Homo sapiens: one gene and its partner. The protein of the gene in region 2 interacts with the protein of the main gene of each other region in a biochemical or structural test. Each region holds a gene or a part of one and is shown on either strand. Other genes may lie near its edges.

Evidence for each region.
Region 1: the proteins of CCDC91 (region 2) and AP2B1 interact in a surface display test, tested with the Homo sapiens proteins (one large-scale study listed by IntAct).

The regions. Positions count from the first base shown.
Region 1 is NC_000017.11:35,625,093-35,628,920, reverse strand, and holds part of AP2B1 (AP-2 complex subunit beta), read right to left. Parts: intron 2,301-3,828; coding exon 2,079-2,300; intron 1,537-2,078; coding exon 1,416-1,536; intron 1,291-1,415; coding exon 1,195-1,290; intron 1-1,194. UniProt on the Homo sapiens protein: Component of the adaptor protein complex 2 (AP-2). Adaptor protein complexes function in protein transport via transport vesicles in different membrane traffic pathways.
Region 2 is NC_000012.12:28,543,278-28,547,105, reverse strand, and holds part of CCDC91 (coiled-coil domain-containing protein 91), read right to left. Parts: intron 1-3,828. UniProt on the Homo sapiens protein: Involved in the regulation of membrane traffic through the trans-Golgi network (TGN). Functions in close cooperation with the GGAs in the sorting of hydrolases to lysosomes.

The DNA of each region.
Region 1 (3,828 bases), on a different chromosome or scaffold from region 2:
GAAAGAAAATGTAATCATTTGCATTACATTGGCCCTAAATATTTACACAGTCGTAATATGCATAAATTTTGCAAGCCAACAGTTGATAGAATAAGAAACAAAGGCATATTATTTCAATCTACCATGATAATGGATATAGGAACAAAAACCTTCATTATGTAACTACACTGGAAAACAGGAGACGGAAGTGGGAATGGTGGGTGTATGAAGTAAACTTCTTATAGCAGATAGTTAACAGAAAAAGTCTATGATAGGTAAATTAATAAATAATAGCATAAGAATATTATTGTTGTTCTTTTTTTGAGACAGCGTCTTGCTCTGTCACCCAGAGTGAAAAGGTTTCAGGTTGGAGTGCAGTGGCACAATAACAGCTTACTACAGTCTCAGCCTCCCAGACTCAAGCAATCTTCCTGCCTCAGCCTTCCAAGTAGCTGGGACTACAGGTGTGTGCCACCACACCCAGCTAACTTAAAAAAGTTTTTGTAGAAACAGAGCCTTACTATGTTGCCTAGGGTGGTCTCAAACTGCTGGGCTCAAGCAGTCCTCTCACCTTGGCCTCCCAAAGTGCTGGGATTACAGGTGTGAGCCACTGCACCCAGCCAAGAATATTATTTAGAGATATGGCAGCCCAGTCATGTCTCCAAATCCATGGGAGATTGGTTCCTGGGCCCCTGTGGATACCAAAATCCATGGATGCTTAAGTGCCTTACATAAAATGGTATAGTATTTGCATTTATACACATTCTCTTGTATACTTTAAACCATCTCTAGATTATTTATAATACCTAATGCAATGTAAATACTATGTAAATAATTGTTATATTTTTAAGGAATATAGACAAAAAAAGGTCTGTACATGTTCAGTACAGACAAAACCATCCTTTTTCTTTTCCCCTGAATATTTTTGATCCGCAGTTAGCTGAATCCACGGATGTGGAACTCATGGATATGGAGGACCTATTTTAATCAAAAGAATAACTAAAAGCAAAATCAGAGTTAAAAATATTCCCTCTGAGAAGAAAGTCTAGGTAGGGAAGGGAGGAACCAGAGACAGCTGCTTTCCATTAAAAATTCTTTAACATTGAAACTGTGTGCTTTATTATTTTGATAAACTTAAAAATTATTTTAAAGAAAAAAGTGAAGAGAACTCTCAGAATCCCCAATACATGATCCTAACTACCATCAGACACTTGCCTCCACCTTGATGGCACACCGTCCAATGGCCCGCACAGCTTTTCGAACAAAGTCAACATCCACCTCTGTAGCATATTCTTTCAGTTCTGCCAGAACCTGTTAAACCCAGGAAGTGGTTAATCATTAAGGATTCTCAAATAGCAATCTCACAGCCTAGCTTCTTTAAAGGCCAGACCTTAAGAGCTAAATCATCATCAACTTGAGTCTGCATAAAGTCTGACCTGAGCAATGTTGGCTTGAGATGCCAAACGAATCATGATGTCCAACTTCTCTAGTTTAACATAGATGGGATCATTGTACTTCACAAAGAAGACTTTGATTTCCTGCTTCAAGATTTCAGGCCTAGGGTACACAGAAACAGAAGAAAGGAAGGTGAAGGCATATACTGATATACCCTTCTGAGACTGTATTAATACCTAATCTGTGCCTCTCTGCTCTCCTCTCGCTCCACTCAGGCAAAAAAAAAAAAAAAAAAAAAAAAGCATAAACTTCCTCTATACGCCTCTATTCTTATCAGTTCCACTTGGCAGATTATTTTTATCCTTTTTAAGCATCAGGGCACATGTTGCCATGAAGAACTGCTAGAACAACAATCTGGCTCTAAACTACAGCCTGAACCATATCAACCAGGCACTAGACAGTATATCAGAAAGAGACCCTTCAGAAAACAAACTGGATTGTGGAGCAACGCATGGCATTTATTATAGAAACACTGTAATATCAACTGTTAGCCTCCTGGTGCTAGGCAAGCAAGTTTTTCTGCCATATAACATTTTCATTTCCATATATTAAAAAGAGATTAACACTAGCCTAATTAACATTGACATTATTAAGCTTAATGCAAAATTACAAACACTTTAATCAACACTTCGCTATTTCCCAACCTTTTCTGGACAATTAAGTTGATGTTCCTCAGGGCGACATACTGCACTTCTGGCTCCCCAGACAGCAAAGTGACAAGTGGAGGGGCTAACTTCTTCAGCAGCATATTGTAGTAGTCAGAATCCTTAGGTAACAATTCTAGAAACTTCATTAGGACTTTTACCGCTGAAAGCACCACTGCTGAGTTGGCATGGGATAGCCGGGGAGTTACCCGCTCACAGATGCTGAGGGTGGAGAATGAAAATTAATATCATGAATTATAATTTATTTGCTGAATTCATTCTATAAGGTAATATGTCAGAGTCTAATGGCCAAGTATCAAAAAATTAAAGAATTAGTTAGAAAAGTCAAAGCTCCATGCTTAGGTAAAATTGGGATCCAACAATGCAGAAGCCTCATTCTCAGCAAACTACAGGCAGAGCAGGGACATAAGAAGACTTCAGGAAACCAGTAATAAGGGATGTTCAAACTGGAAAGAACCTAGCAATACCCAAGACACTTGAGCTCACACCATTTACCTTCTTGTTTTATAGTCCTCTTTGTCTCCCCATATTATGTTAAGGCTCCCTGCCTCTCAGCCCATTTCTACTCAACCTATAGGAAGTCAAATTAAGCATTCTGAGAGTTATTTCATAGGAAGAGACAGCAAACGCAGTTGTGGCTGAAGATTTCATTGTAAGATACAGCAGGAGGCAGGCTGGTAGGGAAAACAATCCAACCTCCTCTCTTAAGGATAATGAGAATAAGGGACTCTCTGAAAAGGGTTTGTTTTTTAAATAGCAGGACACCACTACTATATTTTCCTGTCTCCCCCCTCTCCTAGCCCCTGCCACCTACACTTACATGCCTCATAAAATGGTTGATATTTAATTATCTGTTGAGGGTTCTTTAGAAATTAATCCAATTTTGGTAGCTTGGGCAACACAAGTAGCTAACTTACTGTATTAAAGAAAGAAGATAAATAGGCTGTACTTCTCTCTTCCTCCTATTCCTGACTTCCTTTGGGTCTTTATATGAATGCCACCTTCTCAGTGAGGTCTTCCCTGGCCATCCTTTAAAAAGAAAATACAACCCCTCACCCCCAAATGCCCAGCATTTCTTAGATTTCTTCTCTACTTTACTTTCTTGTTAGTACTTATCACCATCTCACATATTACATATTACACTATCTATACATATTATATATTATATTATCTATACATATTATATATATTCCTACCCCCATCCTTCAGAATAAGTGATCCCAGAGGGCCATGACTTTGTTCACTGCTGTATCCTCAGAGCCTGGAACACTGCCTGGCACACAGTATGCACTTAATAAATATTTGCTAAGTGAGTGAATGAATGAATGTGATGTCAATGGCCAACAGAAGAAAATAAAATTCTCAGTAAAGTTATTTCCAGACTATATTTGTACTTTCAGTGATGGAAAGAAACTATCAGAGTGAGCTTTAGTTCAGTCCAGAGGGACAATTTCCCAGATAAGTGAAGATCACTTACATTCTAGTAGCTTGGAAATCAGCTTCAGCCAGACCAGTTCTTAAATACCATAATTAAAATATACCAACTTTAATGAAGAGCCAACATTTCTTCAGAAGTACTTTGCCTAGTACAGTGCCTGCATATACAAAATGCTCAATAAAAATTAGGGATAATTCCAACTTTGTAAACTAAAATGTATGTATGTGTAGATGAAATTTAGTAGTCAATTTCTAATAACCAAAGAAAATTTGCAACATTACATGGTAACAG
Region 2 (3,828 bases):
CTTATAATCCTTATAATTCTTAAGTTTGAGAGGGTCCACACAATCACTTTATTTCATTGCCATTACTGGAAGTTTTCCCTATCTCATTTTAAAAAATTGCTTAACTGTATTTCATAATTTATTTAGCTACTTTCCCATTGACAGACATGTAAGTTTATTCTAACTTTTTTGTTGTTTTTCAAGCAATAAAATTTACAACCTGAGTGCACACCCTTCAAAAGATGTTCAAGGTACTGAAATCTGTCACATCTGCATATTGTAAATTGTGATACATATTGCCAAATTTCTTCCCAGAGAGTATACTAAGTTATCAGTCCCAACTGCAGTGTTATAGAGGATCAGTGTCTCTTGTTTTTTTTTCCTTTTAAACCGTTGCATAGTTTTCATTTTATAGTTATAATATATGTAACAGATATTTTAATATTCTAAAGCATTATATTCACAGACATTAAGATTGTTCATAATATTTGGCTATTATAATTAAGGCTGTAATGAACATCCTTCAACACAGACCTCTGTATACACGTGCTAGTATAGCTTGTGGAAATTGTATGAGCCAAAGAATATGTAGTTGGCAATGCTACCTCCAATTATAAATCAGCTTTCCATATATGCAGGAACCTGTCTTTAGGCTCTCCATCCTGTTCCCTTGAACAATTCACCTATCTCTACACAAATGTAATGCTATTTTAATTACTACAGCTTTATAATAAACCTTAATATAACATATATTGCCAATATAAAATATTTCAGAAGAATATAAATTAGTGGGCATTTGTAAGAAAACTGAGTTTAAGAAGGAAGTGACCAGACTACAGATAGTCTCATAACTCTTTTATCATAGGCACAAAATATAAGCAGAACTCAGCGGTATATTATTTTGAGACATATAAGTAGGCAAAAACCCATTTCTTTTTAAGGTAAGTAAACAATGCAATAAAAACTGAACTGAGGATAGTTGTATTTGGAGGATGAATCTGGCAGGATGAGATACGTAATTCAGTTTGGAGGTGGCTTCATGGGTGTTTGTTTTACTATTATGCTTCATAACTTGTGTACATATAACATATGTGCTAGCTTTAACAATTCAAAATCCTTCACAAATCGCCCAGAACAATCAGGAGATACATTAAAAACAAATATGACTTAATATCTTAGAATTTTTAGAAGCTAGATAAATGAGAAACTTTTCTCCTTTTGAGGGAATATAGTACAATTTCACAATGTGTAACAAGCATTCAACCTCTGTTGCTAAGTAACAATAATCTGAATTTGTGCATTCAAAAGGAGTATTTCTGTAATTTTTTAAGAGGATATATATATAAGGACAAAAAAAGTTTGATAGATTTCTGTTTAAACACACCACACGCTTCTCTTGCTTGTGTTAGATGTCACCAAGGAATTACTGACTATAAGATGGTAGGCATGAAGGTTTTGGTTTTAGGCAGCTGCCAAGGCTCACTTCACATCTTTACCACTCCCTCCCCAGAGCACTCTGAAAGTAAGAATCCTTTAAATAAACAGGAGCACAATACTTTAAGAAGCAACAAGGCGAACCGATACTGTATGAGGAGGAAAACAGAGATTGGGCCATCACAAAGCTGAGCTTCCACTTTTGTGGGTCCTTCTTGGGCATAGTACATAGATCATGGCTGTGGGATGGAACACATACAACCTTTCTCTTATAAGGATGTTGAATTCCTCTCTTTGAAACAAATACATCAAACTGATGTTCTTGGCAAATTCCTGAATTTCAACAGTTACTGTTTTATTAGGCATGACCTTCTTATCCTTTATTGAGGCGAGAAGAATTTTGGCAAAATATTCACCTTTTTTGCTCCTTAAGGTATGGGACTTAGTTCTGTATTTGTGGCTTTCATTTCAAAGTGAATCAAAGATTTGTATTCTGTGACATAGTAATGAAAAATATTATGTCCAGAGTAGTGGTGGCAAATATTTTTTTGATATGGGGTTAAAAATCTCTTCATAATAGAGTAGCTCTAACCGATTTGTTTTCTCTTCCATTTTCTGTTGCTTTAATTTCTATTCAGCTCTTACACATATCTGAAAAATCTGGAAATTCTGAAGTTTCTGAAATAGACAACTAGGCTTCAGTTTGCTGGTATAACTGCTGAAAGCCTTTTAGAAGCATACTACTTACTAAAATTTTTAATTTTATTAAGCTTGTGGGGGGAAATAGCATGTCTTCTTAATAATTTCATGTATTAGATTTACCCTTTCATGAGTGTTTCATGCCATTGCAAAAGTAAAAGAAAAATAAAACATCTCTTGACCTTAGCTTTTTATTTGCCAGTCATTAAAATGCAATATGATGGTGAATTTACATTGGTCTAAAGTGCAACATTCAAAGTCAATTACAAACACATCTGGCTTATTTTAATTGGACTGTTTATTAAGAAGACTGTTCACATCCAAAAAGATATAATTCATTGTTTTGAAATATATATATGTGTGTATGTGTATGTGTGTGTGTGTGTCAAATACACATAGTACTAATTGCACTTTCAATGTTTTGAGCTTCTACCAACAAAATACACTAAGAAATGTGAACATGTTACATCTACCTTTATCAATGTTACTTTTCCAACTTACACTCCTACATATTTTAAATTAATGCTTAAAAATGACTTCATTTTTCCAAAGAGCTAGGATGGCTATCCAGCAAATCCACTCATGGGTAAAGTGACTAGAGAAGACCACTTAGAGAAGGTGGTAATTAAGAGACTTGAAAAGAGACAAGAAGGGAGCTATCTAAAAACATGGGGAAAGAAATTCTCAAGGTAGCTGGAAACACAAGGAAAAAACTCCAAAAGGGGGGTGCAGACTTGGTTTGATGGAGAACTGGTAAGAAATCCATTAAGATTGGAGCAAAATTACCAAGGAGGAGACTGGTAGGGGAGGAGATCAGAGAAGTAGATGGAGGCCAGAGCATAAAGGGCCCTAAAGGTTTGCAGTTTGATGGGAAGACATTGGAGAGTTTTCAGCAGGAGTATGACCATGCTTTGTTTGAAAAATATCGTACAAATTATTACGTGGAAAACAGACTGTAGCGGGACAAGAGTGGAAGAAGAAAAGCCAGCTAGGAGACTTTCAGTCTGGAAAAGATATAAATTTGACCAGAATATTGGCAATGGTGGCTTAAGAACAGTTCAGGTTTAGGATTTTAAGACAGGACCAACTTGAGTTGCTGATGGATTGGAAGTATAGATGAAAGGAAAAGAGAAATAAAAGGCGATTCTTTGAATAATAGTGTCCTATCCTGAGATATGATAGACTGGAGCTGGAGTGAGTTGGCCAGAGGAAAACTGTTTTGTTTCAGACATGATAAATTTGTCTAATCTCATCAGACATGTTGGAGATGTCAGATATAGGGGTCTGCAGTTCAGGGGAGATATCAGGCCTTGAAATAAAAACGTGGACGTCATCTCCATATAGAAGGCATTTAAAGCACAGATAAAAATATTTAGGGAATGAAAGTGGATAAAAGAGAAAAGGTTACAGGACTAAGTCCTGGGACACTCGGGGATGTCCAAGGAAGAGAATACAGTCATGGGTTCTTAGTTTCTGTTTCTGATTGGGCCAGTAAAGTCCCTTCCCCATCGCTCTTTTCTGCTTATCACTAGAAACAGAAACTAAAAACCACGGCTTCAAGCTGCTAAAAACCTAAAGCAAAACAAAACAGAACAAAAACAACAAAATAAGGCGGGTTGCACAAGCTTGCTAGCACATGATCTTGTAAGAGAACAGTGGGATATTCGATTCAACAGATAATTATTGTAATGGGTTGAATTGTGTCCCCCAAAAAGA